2 separate regions of the Homo sapiens genome follow, and region 1 is linked to region 2. Evidence: fine-mapped expression QTL. Tissue or cell type: whole blood. Region 2 holds a variant in brackets; the other region holds the start of a gene. Each region is shown on its reference strand, or each on the opposite one.

Region 1 (8,142 bases), not on the chromosome of region 2:
GAGATTGTTCCCTCAACTTCATGTGAAAGGTGGAGTACTTGGCTAGATACTCTGTTTATTGTGTAATGGATTGAACCTTGAAAAATAAAACCCCATAAGAATAGCATATGTCATATTTTGACCGCTTAAAAGCCCTGGGAAGAGAGGCCGGGTGTGGTGGCTCATGTTTGTAATCCTAGAACTTTGGGAGGCCAAGGAAGGAGGATTGCTTGAGCCCAGGAGTTCGAGACCAGCCTGGGCAACATGGTGAAACCCCATCTTTACTAAAAATATTAATAGAAAAATTAGCTGGGCATGGTGGTGCGCACCTGTAGTCCCAGCTACTTGGGAGGCTAAGGTGGGCAGATCTCTTGAACCGGGAGGTCAAGGCTGTAGTGAGCCAAGATTGTGCTACTGCACTCCAGCCTGGGCAACAGTGTGAGACCCTGTCTCAAAAAAAAAAAAAAAAAAAAAATAGAAACCCTGGGAAGAGAATATAGCTACTATACAACAGGAAAGTAGTATAGTAAAAGGGCCAGACAAAAGCATAAGCTTGGCTTAGGAGTATTTAATAAATGTAACTTATTCAGGACTGCTTGGAAGAACCATAATACCTGCTACAGGATTGTGGAAGAAACCTAAACATCAGAATCCTGTGGATGAGAGTAGGAATGAACATTTATTGAATATTCATTATATGCCAGGTCCTCTGCTAGTTCTCACCCGCTATGCTTGGAGTTGGCTATTCATTAACTGAGGGCCTTCTTTGTTCCAGGCATTCTGCTAGGTGCTGGGAATCAAGAACAAGACCACTGGTCCCTACCCTCATGAAGTTTAAAGATAAATAAGTTATATCTAGACCAGGTGTTGTGGCTTACGCCTGTAATCCCAGCACTTTGGGAGGCTGAGGTGGGTGGATCACTTGAGGTCAGGAGTTTGAGACCAGTCTGGCCAACACGGTGAAACTCTGACTCTATTAAAAATATAAAAATTGGCTGGGTGCCGTGACTCATGCCTGTAATCCCAGCACTTTGGAAGGCCGGGGTGGGTGGATCACCTGAGGTCAAGAGTTCAAGGTCAGCCTGGTCAACATGGTAAAATCCTGTCTCTACTAAAAATACAAAAATTAACTGGTCGTGGTGGTGCGCACCTATATTCCCAGCTACACGGGAAGCTTAGGCAGCAGAATCGCTTGCATCAGGGAGTCGGAGGTTGCAGTGAGCAGAGACCTGCCATTGCACTCCAGCCTGGGCGACAAGAGCAAAACTCTGTCTCCAAAAAAAAAAAAAAAAAAAAAATACCTGGGCGTGGTGGCAGGCGCCTGTAGTCCCAGCTACTCGGGAAGCTGAAGCAGGAGAATCACTTGAACTGGGAGACAGAGGTTGCAATGAGCCGAGATGGTGCCGCTGCATTCCAGCCTAGACGTCGGAGTGAGACTCCATCCCAGGGGGAAGAAAAAAAGTTATATCCATATGGTGTGATGAAGTGAAAGAGACATCGTCCCCTTTCCTACACATGAGGAAGCTGAAGGCCGGAGAGATGGAATAATTTGCCCAAAGCTTCCTGTTATTATGCCATTAGACAGTTATTTTAGTTTTGTGTTCATTACTACAGTAGACCCCGATTTAAGAGTCTGGTCATCAGATACAGTTTCCTCTCTTAGGTTAGTACTTAGTTAGGCTCACCTCACTTTTTTTTTTTTTTTAAGGTATCACCTGATTTTGATACAGCAGCAGGAAGCTTGTTCCCAGCCTACCAGAAACACCAAAACCGGGCGAGACACTCAAGTCGAAAACCTACCACCTCCAAGTTTCCACATCTAACTTTTGAGAGTCCGCAATCTTCCAGTTCAGAGACATTGGGGATCCCCTTAATCCGAGAGTGCCCCAGTGAATCAGAAAAGGATGTTTCCAGAAGACCCTTAGTTCCAGTGCTCAGTCCCCAAAGCTGTGGGAACATGTCAGTGCAGGCACTTCAGAGCTTACCTTATGTGTTCATTCCACCTGATATCCAGACCCCAGAGTCATCGTCTGTGAAGGAAGAACTCATTCCCCAAGATCAGAAGGAAAACAGCCTTCTAAGCTGCACTCTTCACACTGGCACTCCTAATAGCCCAGAGCCTGGACCTGTTCTGGTTAAAGACACCCCCGAGGACAAGTATGGAATAAAGGTCACATGGAGGAGACGACAGCACCTGCTTGCTTACCTCAGGGAGAGAGGGAAGCTGAGCAGAAGCCAATTCCTTGTGAAAAGCTGACTGCCATCAGTAATCTCAATAGAAAAGAGATATGTTTTCTGGAGTCATAAAGGAATTCAATTCCTAGGGTTTTTGTTTTTGTTTTTGAGATGTAATATTGCTCTGTTGCCCAGGCTGGAGTGCAGTGGTATGATCTCACCTTACTGCAACCACCACTTCCTGGGTTCAAGCGATTCTCCTGCCTCAGCCTCCCCAGTAGCTGGGATTACAGGCACCAGCCACCATGCCTGGCTAATTTTTTTGTATTTTTAGTAGAGATGTGGTTTCTCCATGTTGGCCAGGCTGGTCTCAAAATCCTGACCTCAAGTCATCTGCTGGCCTTGACCTCACAAAGTGCTGGCCCAGCCGAGATTTGTTTTCTAAGATACTTTGTGTCATGAACAGTTCAGTTTAGTGTCATGAACTATTCACTTCATATTTTTCTTGTATTAACTGTTTAAATTTTTAAAATATCTTGTAGTAACTCTTTAAAATGTATGTAAGTAAATGGCTGCAGAAAGTTTTTTTAGAGAATCCTGCTTCCATCAGTAATACAGCAATATTACCCCATCCACTAATGGTCTTTGTTTCCTTAACCACTACTCATTAATCCTTAATCACCTCATTCAAACTAATTCATTCTGCATTTTTGAGTACCAACTCTTGTCAGGCTCAGTGGCAGCTTCTACGACCTGATGGATGGAAAAAAATCAAACTCTGTGACTCTATGGTTGACTGCCACCTCTGCAACCTTGACTCATCTGCTGAAAAGGCAAGAAGAAGAAAGGGCAGCAAGCCCTGTTTTAGGGACTACATAAGATGAGGGGAGATAAGGGGGACATAGATGAGTTCTTTAGGATTGCGTGTGTTTTGAGTTTTTGTTTCTAACTGAAGAAATCTGTCAATATTAAATAGGGTGGGAAAATGGTTTCTTAGAATAACTGTTCAACTGTGTGTAAATAAGGAAAGTTTTCAATGAGTATTACTTATTGTAATTAATGCAGAAGGACTTCCCCAGTCAACCGAATGTCTCGGCCTTTTACTCAGACAAGTAGCATCTCATTAAACCCATTCATTTAGCATTCATTCAGCTGGACCTACTGTGTCAGGTCCAGCCCCAACTAGATCAAGCAGGGATTACTGTATATTTTACAGATGGGAGTTTGATGCAGAGAATGAACCATGCACAGGTCACACAGTGAGTGCACGCTGACCCAGGCAGTGTAACGGTCCACTCTCAGCGTGTGCCTCCTAAAGTACTAACTTGTAGGTTCAAAACCAATGTGGAAACAACTTTGACCTTAGAACGCCATAAAGCCATTTGTGCAGTGACTTGTCAGGACTCAGGATGTTTTGTAGGGACTATAATGTGCATGTCGGTAGGGAGAAAGGGACTGACATTTGGGGACGGGATTTATTGGAGACAAGAGTACACATTTAGACAGGGGCTCTCACGGTGGGCTATGGATGTTTGAGGAAGGCCCACAGGAGGTAGAAAGGTAGATGGAAAGAGTCTCCAGGACGGGCCCACGCCTGTAATCCCAGCACTTTCGGAGGCTGAGGCGGGTGGATCATTTGAGGTCGGGAGTTAAGAGGCCAGTCTGGCCAACATGGTGAAACCCTATCTCTACTAAAAATACGAAAAATAGCCAGGCAGTAGTGGCCCCTGCCTGTAATCCCAGCTACTCCACAGGCTGAGGCAGGAGAATCGCTTGAGCCTGGGAGGCGGAGGTTGCGGTGAGCTGAGACCGGGCCACTGCACTGCAGTCTGGGCGAGAGAGAAACCCTGTCTCAAAAAATTAAAGTCTCTGGATTCCCTCGTGTGCTTTAGGGGAGTCTGTAGAGCAGGTCTAGGAATGACCTAAAAGCTTGGGCTGGAGTAGGGGAAGCTTAAGTTCTGTGCAGTTGAAGTTCAAGGCCAGCCTATGGAAGATGCGTTTCACTGGGAGTGACTGATGGAGTGGAGAGGGTACCAGAGGGGGTCCACGAAGGCCGCTGGTATCAGGGCAGGGGCCAGAATGGGAAGCGGCAGAGGTCTGTACATCCTCACAGGGCAGACCTCGGGAAGCGCTCTGGGTGGGCTCGGTAAAAATGGCGGGGGTGCGAGGAGCCGTTGCGTGCGTGGCGGTTGGTGCGGTATAGGAGACTCCTCTGACCGGACTCGCCTGCTGGCCGCGCGGCGGGCGAGGCCCAGGCAAAAACAAAGTCTTCCCGCTCAGTACCGGCCCCGCGAGGCGCTCCAGAGGACCAAGCCTTAGCTCGCGTCACCCCACCCCCGCGCAGGCGCGTTTAACTCCCGCTCGCCTCCCGCCCCTTAGCAACCCTCCCGCATCGTTGGGCCCCGGCAATAGCCAATGAGACAGGAGCCACGAGAACACGGACCAATCGGCGGCGGCGACAGTGTGGAACGCGGTTGCCAGGAGGCGGGACGCGGCGGCGTGCCAGCCTAGCCACTCTAGCGACGGCGGGGAAGAGTGTGTACGTGGTGGGGGCTTCCTCGGTGGCGGGCATGGAGGCTTCGCGCTGCCGGCTCAGTCCCAGCGGCGACAGGTCAGACAGGGCCGTGGCAGGTCTCCTCCTGAGCGAGGCGGAGGGGCGAAGCGAGAAGGCGGAGGTCCTCTCCGGGAGCCCTGCGGGGAGAGGGCGGGACTCGGGACTTGGCGACTCAGGGAGGGACTGGTTTCGGCGGCGGGAGGCGACCCCCTCGCCCTACTCCCGTGTGGGGACCCCTTTCTCAAGTGGAGCGGCGGCACTACATCCCGCGCCGTGGGCAGAGACCTTTGGTTCAGGTCCCTGCTTAGGAACTTCTGGAGTTTTCGTGACGGGCTCCCTCGGCCCCTCTGGGCCTCGGGTTTCCCTCGGGGGAGAGGCGCTGGCCCCGCTCAGCTCCCACTGCCCGGCGGTGTCACAGCCGAGAGGGGACCCAGCCCCTCCCGGGAGGCGGTGCGGGTGATGTTTAGTAGCTTGTTCTGACGCCGCTGCTTCGGACGGGTAAAGCTGAATTCTGGAGCAGAGTCCGAGGAGCGGAAACGCGAAACTTCTTTTTCCTCTCTGCTTTCCAGTGTTTGTCCCTGATTCGGGATGGTCTGACTGATTTGCCAGTGGGCCACACCCCTTGTTTGTGCGCCTCTTTCTCTGCCAGAGGGAGAGCCTCGGAAAAAAAAGGATCCAAAATCTCAGCGTGTCACTTTCTTGTTCGCTAGGTTAATGAGAAGTTAATGGGAAGCCGTTTGAAATCATTGGTTAGAAACTTTGGCGTCATCTGAGGATTTAAGCCCTACACGCCAACTGTATACCCCGCTTTTTATTCCATTACCAAGACAAAGATTTGGGGCCAGGCGCCTTGGAACACGTCTATTATCCCCAGCACTTTGGGAGGCCAAGGCAGGAGGATCGCTTGGTCTCAGGAGTTCGAGACCAGCCTGGACAAGATAGCGAGACCCCCATCTCTAGAAAAAAATAAAATAAAATAAAATCAATCAGTCAATCAATTAAAATTTGGCCGGACACGGTGGTGCGCGCCTGTAGTTCCAGCGACTCGAGAGACTGAGGAGGGAGGATTCCTTGAGCCCAGGAGTTCCAAACTCCTGTGTTGGGCCACTGAGCTCGCTAGCCTGGGCAACGCAGTGACATCCTGTCACCTTAAAAAAAAAATGATTTGACGTGTAAGTATTTAGTTTGATATTTCCACTAGTAGATATTTAAACAATTTTAAACCATTTTTAAAAATTGTCACAAAGTTGTTGGGGGTAAAGAACATGTATTTTCCTTTTTCGTCAAGTTCTATTGAGGTGATAGCTGCACTCTGAAATTTGTTCACTGTGCTTTTTTTTTTCCCAAGTCGAGGAAGAAAACTACATTTACAGGTGTAAGTGGTAGAGGAGATAAAGTTAGTATTCAGCATCTCTGGTTGAATTCCGAAAATATTTGTTCAGTTGTGGGCGCTCAGTTTTAATTCCATGAATTTAAAGTAGTAAATTTCATGAGTACCAGATGTTTGATATGACTCAGATTTTTTGGGGAAAAAAAAACGGGATGCGGGATTGACTTTGAAATTGGGACCAAGAGGCTTTTCCTTCCTTTTTTTTTTCTGAGACGGAGTCTCTCTCTGTCGCCAGGCGGTAGTGCAGTGGTGCGATCTCGGCTAACTGCAGCCTCCGCTTCCCGGGTTCAAGTGATTCTCCTGCCTCAGCCTCCTGAGTAGCTGGGACTATAGGCACGCGCCACCACGCCCAGCTAATTTTTGTATTTTTAGTAGAGACGGGGCTTCACCATGTTGGCCAAGATGGTCTCGATTTCTTGACCTGGTGATCTGCCCACCTCGGCCTCCCAAAGTGCTGGGATTACAGGCGTGAGCCACTGCGCCTGGCCCCCTCCTTGTTCTTCCGAAAGAAACTAGCTCTTTAAATTTTATTTTCTTTTCTTTTAATTTTAATTTTTTTTTTTTTTTGAGACAGGGTCTCACTCTGTCGCCCAGGCTAGGATGTGGTGGGCGATCTCAACTAATTTCAACCTCTTCCCCAGGTTAAGCGATCCTCCCACCTCAGCATCCCTAGTAGCTGGGACCACAGGTGCGTGGCACCACCTGGCTAATTTCTTGTATTTTTTGTAGAGGTGGGGTTTCGTCATGTTGCTCAGGCTGGTGTCGAAGTGAGCTCAAGTGATCTGCCTGCCTCAGCCTCCAAAACTTCTGGGATTACAGGCCTGAGCCACTGCACTTGGCCCTAAATTGTAAAATTGACATCAAAGGGGAATGTGTGAGTCACCAAATGTTTCTCCTGCCCTCTGTAATGTTAGTGCAACTTCTATCAGTGTTTAACTCATTTGTTACTAAGAGGGAGTCTCTTGCTTTTTTCTCTTTTTGGGCTTCAGGTTGTGTGTTTAATGTGTTTTTTTTTTTTTTTTTCCAAACGGAGTTTCGCTCTCGTCGCCCAGGCTGGAGTGCAGTGGCGCCATCTTGGCTTACTTGCCTCCTGGGTTCCAGTGATTCTCCAGCCTCAGCCTCCTGAGTAGCTGGGATTACAGGCATGCGCCACCGTGCCCGGCTAATTTTTATATTTTTAGTAGAGAGGGGGTTTCTCCATGTTGGTCAGGCTGGTCTTGAACTCCCGACCTCAGGGGATTCGCCCGCCTCGGCCTCCCAAAGTGCTGGGATTACAGGCGTGAGCCCCCCAACCCTGCCTGGCTGTTTAATGTTTTTGATGAAATACATTGATAGAATTTTCTGTATTACTGCCTTTCAATGTAAGGATAACAACCAACTTTTAGGTTTTCTGTGTTTTTTTTTTTTCTTGGAATTATGTAACTTTTATCATGAAGCAGATTTATTTTCAACAAAATAGAGAAATTATTAACTACAAATATTTTTTTTAATTTTTATTTTTTTGTAGAGACAAGGTCTCACTATGTTGCCCAGGATGGTCTTGAAGTCCTGGTCTCAAGTGATCCTCCTGCCTCAGCCTCCCAAAGTGCTGGGATTACAGGTGTGAGCGACCAGGCTTGGCCTATTTTCTTATATCAGAAATGTTTAGTGAAAATTGGAGGTGAAATTTGAAACAACACTCAGGACCTTTGTTGAGGCTAGGCATTTTATAATATAGATTCCCTGGAGATGACGGGGGTTGGCTGGTGCTGGAACTTGAGCCCTATCTGGCCTTTTGTAAGTGATAGAGAATTGAGAATTGAAGGCGTGCTTCCCACTGTGGTGTGACCTTGTGAGCTGGAGTCATCTAAGAAATCCCAGTCGGTGGTTTGTCCATATACCATGATTTCTCTTTAGAAATATAAACAGTAGGCTGGGCATGGTGGCTCACACTTGTAATCCCAGCACCATGGGAGGCCGAGATGGCGGGGGGGCGGGGCGGGGGGGGGGAAATCACCTGAGGTCACGAGTTCAAGACCAGCCTGACCAACATGGAGAAACCCTA
Region 2 (8,142 bases):
GAGAAGGGGCAGGTGGAGGCATCCGCCTTCCCAGAAGTCAGCCTAATCTCTGCCTGTCTTGAGAAAGATAATGAGGATTGCTCTGAAGGGTGGGGACAGGGGCTTGCTTGCTTCTTTGGCAGGGCACGGAATTTCTGAGAAGCCCTTCCCCCAAGATGCCAAGCCCCAAGTCCAACTGCCAGGGCTCAGGGAAAGAGGAACCTGGGGAACTAGGCATGGAAAAGGGAAAACCCTTGGGGCGGAGATATGATGTGTCACTCAGTGCTTCCTCATTGCCCTCCAGATAGGTAGGCTTCATTCCAGCCTCCCCACCTTTGCTTATGCCCTTCGTTCTGCTGGGAACTCCATCTGCATTCCTGTCTGCCTGCTCCAACCCTGCCCATCTTGAATGCCCCAGCTCAATCCAACTCCTCAAGAAGCTTCTGTGGCTGTTCCATCCTAGTGAGCTTTCTCCTCCCACGACCCTCAATGGCTGGGATAGAAGTTGCTCAATAGATTCTCATTAATTAGAATTTATTGATCACCTATTACATGTCAGTGTCTTGGGCTGGTTTCCTCTGAAATAAGGACTTGAGCATTAATAGTTTATTTGGAAGATTTCCATAAAACACCAGTAAAGGAGTAGAGAAGTGAGGCAGGAAAGAGAAAGAAGCCAATAAAATAAATGCCTGCTACTGAGTAGGTGACTGCTGTATGCAACTGGGGACCTTTGGGTAACTCATCTCAAAGTTACCCAGCCAGCGGGCAAGGGAGCTAGCGTATTAGCCATGAAATCATGTAGCCATTGGTTGAGAGATCCTAGGGAAGTGGGTGTCAATTCCCTGGCACTTCTGACCTGCCCTGTATGGGAATCCAAACGGGCTCAAAGTGTCAGAATGGTGGGTGCTGAGCGGACATGGGTGGATATATCCGTGTCTGCATATGCTGATAGCTGAGGATACAAAGATGAACAAAGCAATCCCCTGCCTTTCAGGAGTTGTACAATCAAGTCAGGGAGGCAGAGGGTTAAACACATTGTTCCAGGGCAGCACAGTACATTCCAGAATAGAGGTACAGTACATCCTCACTTAACATCATCAATAGGTCCTTGGAAATTGCAACTTTAAGTGAAATTACGTATAATAAAATGAATTTTTTTCTCACTTAAAAACAATGTTGAATGAAATGACATTATTTGAGGACCCGCTGTCTGTCATTTTGTTTAAAGTCAGTACTGTCTTCATAGTGGGCTGTGGGAGTTTAGGGGTGGGACACTTGACCAGCCTGGAATTCAGGGAAGAAATCCTGGAGAAGAGTGGAGTTTTGAAGGCAAATCATTGCCACTGTGAAAAGTGGCAGCAGGACATTCTACTTAGAGGGAACAGCATGGGCGAAGTCACCATGTGGGGTGGGGGGTGCTCTGAGCCTGCTGTCAGCTGACATGGCCAGCTCTGCTACCATCTCCATCCCAGCATAAGGGTCAGCTCAAGTTCAAAATAATTTTGAGATAGCAACTAATCTTAACTGTTAACCAGGGAGGACTGGCTGATGTTGAATTTGCAAACACAGGAAGATTTGCTCATTTACTGAGCTTAGTTAGAAATGTGTCACCCGCACTCTTTAAGTAAATCAACAGTCTCCACACTGTATCCACATTTGGGAAGACATTGGAACCTCACTTTTATTCTTTCTTTTGTCCTTTATAATGTACATAATTTATTAGTATGGTAGCACATATTGTATATCTTATATACATGTTAGGGGCATATGTCACAGATTTTCTGTGGATAGAGGTATATAATCAAAAGAATTGGGAGCCTACTGAAGTGGGTGATGGCTGAGGTAAGCTTGGGATATGCTTTAGAAAGAAGGTTCTAAACCCAGCTCCCCTACCCCATCCCTACTGGCAAGAGGTTAAGGTTGGGCTTTCTCTCTAGTGGCATCCCTGCTTGCTTGTTGTGCCATGTGAACATAGGCCATTTGAGGGCCAGGTTTGGGCTGCAGCTGTGGAATAGGCTTCTTTCTCCCTCCTCAGGCCCACTGACCCACCCAGGGGCTTGAGTCTTCTTTGGTAGAGGCGGCCTCCGTTTGGAGCCGTTTCCATGGTTATGAGGCAGGAGCTATCACTTGCTCTTTCTGTCCCTTGCCTCTGACTCTGATGGGTCTGCTCTGGGCTCCCTCCTGTCTGGTCTGAGGTCTCCAGGCCTGGTACAGGCCCTGCGCTCACACTTTCTGGCTGACTCACAGCTTCTCCAGCCACACTCCAGCCCCTGCCACTCACTCCTGGCCTGGCCCCATGGTCAGAGCTACTGTCAGTCACTAATTATCTTAGTCATCTTTCCATCTATGCTTGTTGAGCTAATGGAGAAGACAAACAGAAATCTCAGCAAATGTGGAAAATTCCTGCTGACAAGGCAAGGGGCCCTGGCCCAGGTTTGGTGAGATTAGACTTTCCCCAGTGAGGCTGCAGGGACGGCCCCCCAGTTTTGAACAGTTTAATTGGGAAGTGGCGGGCAGCCTTCCTGGTCAGTGCTGTGCCCCCTGGTTGGCAGTCCATCTTATCAAACACAGAGCAGGGCTTAACTCAGGGTGGGAGCGCTGGGGAACGGGGGCCACAGAGCCAGGTCTTGGTGGTATCATTATTCAGGCAGCCCCAGGGCTGTCTCTCCAGTTGGGATTCTTGGTTCTGGGGTCCTCCCGCCCCAACCAAGGATGCCCAGCTGGCCAAGTCAGCTGAACGGGAGGGTGAGGCCTGGGCTGCATGCTCTCTCACACCTGAGGCCTGTTAATAATTACCCCTGGGGAGGGCAAGGCCCCAGCAGACATCACTAATGAGCCTGCTAAGTGACAGCTGGGCCCTTTCCCCCTCACCTGCTCAGGAAAACAAGATCCGACCAAGGAATTATTTAACCCTTTTTGGGCTGGGCGCTCCCTGAGGACAGGGTTGTGCCTTCCCCTCAGACTGGGGCTTCCTGAGTCCCTGGAGCCTTCTCCATTGTCAGCACAAGACTTCTTCTATTCCTGTTGTCAGTGCTTGCATTTCTGCTCTAATGGAAGGCTGCTCTGTTTAGTGTCAGCTCTAAGCAGTGCTGTCCGCTAGAACATTCTGTGATGGTGGAAATGTTCTCGAGCCGCACTGTGGAAAACAGTAGCCACTAGCCACACGCGGGTACCGAGCACTTAAACTATGCATCTGATTTACGGTAGTTTTAAAACCCAATTTTAGTTAATTTAGATTATTTATGAATGAGACAGGGTCTCACTCTGTGGCCCAGGCTGGAGTGCAGTGGTGCAGTCTCGGCTCACTGAAGCCTCGACTTTCCAGACCTAAGCCATTCCCCCACCTCAGCCTCCTGAGTAGCTGGAACTACAGGCACACGCCACTACGCCTGGCTAATTTAAGAAAATTTTTTTGTAGAGGTAGGGTTTCACAACATTGTTCAAGCTGATAATTTAGATTTAAATGGCCACATGTGGCTAGTGGCTCCCATACTCCGTGGTGAGGTCTATAATGTTTCACAAGGGAGGCCTTGAACGGGTGGTGAACAGATTTATGCAAAACAACCCTCTAAACTGCAATCCCATTGGTAGGTCAGAGCCCATTTTCTCACCCTTGCAGGCTTGAAGGGGCCCAAGGTTATTTTCCTTGGAGATGGCTCCTGGAAGCCTGGGTGGGTTTCCTCACTACCTCCCTACAAAAGCCCCTAGGTGGCTGAGGGGCCCAGAGGAACAGGGATCTGGCTAGAAAGCACCTGTTCTTAACAAGGGTCCCCAGCAGCCAGGCAGCCCTCCCTCCACAGGGCACGGGGCTGTCGCTGCCTGAATGAGGGAGATTTATGGAAAATCCCCTCACACAACAGGCGGATTTTCCAAGCCTCATTGGTTGTTCTGGTCTGAGCCTTCATTAAGGGGAACAGGGGACAATGGAGGAGGTAGGGGTGAGGCCCTGGGTCCATTCAGCTCTCTATCCTTTGGCACTGGGAACTCCATCAAGGCCCCCCCAACCCTTTCCTGGCTTGAGGAAAGGTCACACTCTCTCCCCTTTCAATA[G/A]TAATAAAAGGCCCCAAATATCCAGCAAAGTCAGACTCGGCCTTTGAGGAATATCTTTCTTGCATTTTAAAAGATTTCCAGAAGAGATATTCTTTGGTTTTGCTTTACAATCCTCTGTGCCTTGTAATGCACGGTCTTGGAAGTTCCTCCCTACAGCTAACCTAATTTTATTACGCTTTAGGCCTGCCTCAGTAGGACTTCTCCTTTAAAGTTACGGCAACATTTCAAAGTAGCAAGATCAATTGTGTGACTTCCCAATAAAAATCCTTGATTGGAAGGAGAAACCACTGGCTACTAGAGCTGGAGGGACCCTAGAGATTTGCAGTCCGTTCCTCACTGCGCATTCAGAGAGTGTACCGCCCAAGCAGGTGGTGCCACACTTAGAGCCAGAATTCATGCTCCAGGTGGTACCCACCTGTATACCAGCTGCCTCTGCTGCAGCACAGTCACATAGAGATCCAGAGACCCATTGAGACAACCCTTCCAGAGGAAAGAGCACTGCTTGACCCAGGGGAATGGATTTCTAAGAGTGAATATTAGGTCTCATCCCAAAGGCTTTTTGTCTTAAAGCCCCTTCCAGAAAGTACTCAGTATGTAGTAAGGAGATCAGTGGGAGTGTCTTAGAGGTAAGACCGAGAGTGGCCCTTTGAAGGTGGCGAGGGAAGAGAAGGGTGAGGCATTCCCAGGGTTGCAAAGACTCAGGAGGGCTATGGCAGGGGCCTGGGGCGCTTCCCCTGTGTTGGGGATGTGACTGAGGCTGGGCATTGCTCACTGAGTAGAGTCGATGAGTACAGCCAGTTCCCTATAATGGTGGGTGTCCAGGTCCTGGGAGGTGACTCGCCTTGTCGAGGGAAACTGGTGGGAGCAGGAGGTGTTTATGGTTTTCCCTCTCCTGGGGGCAGCTGGAGTGAGCCAAGTTTACAGTTGCCCAGAACTCTATAAACACACTTGGTGAGCATGTGTGCGTATGTGAGTGCCTGTGCGGGTGAGTGTCCCCTGACATCTGACTGTCACCCCTGCTGGGCGGCCCTGACCTTCCTGACCTTGTGAGAAAGGAGAGAAGATGCTAAGCTGAGTGACTTTGCTCTCTTGGGCCTGGTGACACCTACTGAAGGGGTCCGTAAGCCTGGGCTATGTGGGACCCTGGGGGCCCTGTAGGCTTCCTTGGGAGGAAGGCCTTGAGGGGATCCTGGAGAGTGGGGAGGAGGAAGGGCATTCCAGGCCTGGGGAACTGCAGGAGCAAGGAGGTGTGTGTGTGTGTGTGTGTGTGAAAGAGAGAGATCGGAGCAGGAAAGGGCGAGCCTTACAAGAAAGAGAAACTTTGGGGAAGCCTTTAGATCTGACCTGATAGTTCGTAGAGACATATTGAAACCCTGTCTGGCACACAGGCCCCACGTGCTTATTATCATTAGTAATTATGACACGACACAGAGGTATTCCCTGGTTTGGTGACTGGGTAGCCTGAGCCCTCCATATTCTGGCCAGTGCTGAACATGGCTGGCATTAGGGATAGCTTGTGGTCTCAATTAGGGGCCAGCAGTGGCCAGGGTTAGGGGTCAAGTGGTAGCCAGGGTAAAGCAAGCTTGTAGTCAAGATAAAGGGTCAGCTGTGGTTATGACTGGCTGTTGATAAGTGGTTGGGGCTAGAGGTCAGATACTGACAATGAACAGTTTTCTATGTATGATGCTAACTGCTCTGGAAGCAGCTCACCTTATCTCGGAGGCATAATGAAGAGGCAGGAGCATTTGTCTGAGAACTAAGAAGACTTGGGTGTTAGCCCTTGTTCTACTCACTTATTCGCTGGGTGAGTTGCTTCACTTCTTTGAACGTCAGTCTTCCCTCTGCGGGAAAGTAACAATGCATGCCCTCCTGCCTTACAGTATGTGAGGTATTTGTTTCTGGGTATCCTATTATTAAATGTGATTAAATAATCATTAATAGCAACACAGCCTTTCCAATCTCACCCTGCCAGGCCTGTAGGTAAACCCTCAGTGTTGGCTGAGGGTAGGTTGGGGGAGTGGTTAAATAATGGTCCACAGACTTGGCCACTCATTGGAATTACCTGGACATTTACAAGAGCATACTGATGCCTGACTTACTCCAACCCTCCTGCATTCTGAATTAATTTATATGGGGTGACCAGGGCATCAGATGTTTTTTTAGACAAGGTCTCAGTCTGTCCCCCAGGCTGGAGTGCAGTGGCACGATCACGGCTCACTACAGGCTCGACCTCTTGGGTTCAATTCTCCCACCTTAGCCTCCCAAGTAGCACCAAGGACTATAGGTGCATGCCACTATACCCGGCTAATTTTTAAATTTTTAATAGAGACAAGGTCTCACTCTATTGCCTAGGCTGGTTTTAAACTCCTGAGCTCAAGCCATCTTCCCGTCTTGGCCTCCCAAAGTGCTGAGATTACAGGTGTGAGCCACTGTGCCCAGCCATGCATCAGAATTTTTGAAAGTTCCCCAGGTGATTCTAATGGGCAGCCAAGTTTGAAAACCACTGGGTAAAAGCCAGTACAAATGAACTAAAGAGAATGAGTCTTTAAGCAGCAACCTGAGCTGTAGATAAACCAACCAGCTGAATCCATGCCGCATTTCTGTGGGGAGCTGAGATGGGACAGCAGCAAGAGGCTTGGGGAGAACTTTCTCACTTAACCCTCTCCATACCTCTGTGTCTTCATTTGTCAAATGGGGTTATCTTTATACTTACCTCACAAAGGTTGTACTTTATAATAATCAGCCCCAGCCAGCCAAGAGATGTTGACTGAATATTGGGGACTGGAGTGGAGAAAGCAAGGTCCCTGGAACTTCCCTTCAGCGCTGCCTTACCCGAACTTTTTGAGGATAGTCTGAAGCCTGGGGATGGACAACATGACCTTGATGAACCTGGAATCTCCTGGCCCTGAAGAGGATCTTTGGCATATATGTCCCCTGTTTCAAACATCGTCCCCCTCAAATGCACTCACATTCATTTCATCACGTCTTTCATTTTTTTGTTCATTTCAGAAAATACCATCCCCATACTAACCTGTAGGACAGGTGGGGGATGGGGAGATGGAGTTCCATCACCTCTGGCTCTTTCCAGGGTTGGGATGGGATGTTATGGAGCCCCTGGAAGCTTCAGCTGAGGGTTGGGGGCAGCTCCTGGCCAGGTTTCCAGTGTCTTGGTCCTCCGGGGAAAATGAAGTTTTCTTTTGTGGTCTGTGTGTCTTTAAGACTTGAAGGCTGTGGGGACCTGACTGGGGAAAATTCCAACCAGTGGGTTCCTTTGAAATGGAAGTGACATCTAGTGGTCTGAAAAAGAACTGCCAAGTTGACCCCCCCCAGCCCCAGGCTGCCCCTGGGGTCCCTTCCCTGGCCCCAGGTCACTTTCCTGCTGGGCCACAACCCTGCTTGAGGGCAGTCTAAGTCCTGACAGTGGGCTTTTGGTGGCAGGGTGACTCTCTTGGCCCTGCCCAGGCTGGAACCCAGGCCAGGTACCTGCACTCAGGTCCAGACACAGAGAGGCCAGGCCCAGGGCAGCCAGAAGAGGCCCAAATATGCCAGGGCTGCAACATCGCGTCCCCAGGTGAGGTGGAATCCTTGGGTCTCGTGTCTGTTGATTCTGAGGAGCCCTGTCCTGAGTCTTCCACAGAAGTCAGAGTGCTGTGCAGGCCTCAGTGCTGAATCATCCTGTGGCCAGGCTGCTGTTATGCAATGATCCCGCCGTGGGTCCACTGGTGTCAGCGGCTGGCCTTCAGCCTCCCCTTCAGGGAGGCAAGGGGCTTTGGGCGGTGCATGTGCCCAGACTTGGGATGTGTGAAATGACGGCCTGCTCAAACACCTGGCCTTGGAACCAAAAGGGAGGGTGGGAGGAGGGGACAGTGCCCAGTCGCTTGTTCTCTAAGGTTCCTGACTTGAGGAGCCCCAGTCTGAGGGGGAGACATAGCCCTGCCCTCAGGGAACCCCAGAGATCCCTGATGAGGGCGGGAGCAGGAAGGAAAAACACACGAGTGGAACAGACCTGATGAACCCTGCAAAGCGCCAGAAAAGCCAGAGCAGATGATTTTAGGACAGCAGGGCCCCAGGGGCTGTGCTGGGAACGGGGCAAGTGACTGGCACTGGGATTGA

Evidence for each region. PIP is the estimated chance that this variant, and not a neighbour inherited with it, causes the effect.
Region 1: it holds the start of TULP3, and the variant in region 2 is fine-mapped to the expression of TULP3 in whole blood (TOPMed, PIP above 0.99).

What each region holds. Positions count from the first base shown.
Region 1 is chr12:2,886,224-2,894,365 of GRCh38, forward strand. TULP3 (TUB like protein 3) reads left to right here and starts at 4,668. Exons shown (of 11, transcript NM_003324.5): 1 at 4,668-4,765. The coding sequence starts at 4,725. RHNO1 (RAD9-HUS1-RAD1 interacting nuclear orphan 1) reads left to right here. Exons shown (of 3, transcript NM_001252499.3): 3 at 1,688-3,301. The coding sequence ends at 2,236. It overlaps LOC124902860 (a long non-coding RNA gene), which reads left to right. Exons shown (of 2, transcript XR_007063160.1): 2 at 1-103. RefSeq lists an enhancer at 4,064-4,243 and a silencer at 4,514-4,563.
Region 2 is chr6:43,831,142-43,839,283 of GRCh38, forward strand. All of the region lies in intron 1 of LOC105375070 (a long non-coding RNA gene), which reads left to right. It overlaps LOC105375069 (a long non-coding RNA gene), which reads right to left and starts at 7,658. Exons shown (of 3, transcript XR_001744130.1): 1 at 7,513-7,658; 2 at 6,743-7,271; 3 at 5,791-5,870. The variant G/A (reference allele first, on the strand shown) is at 4,030.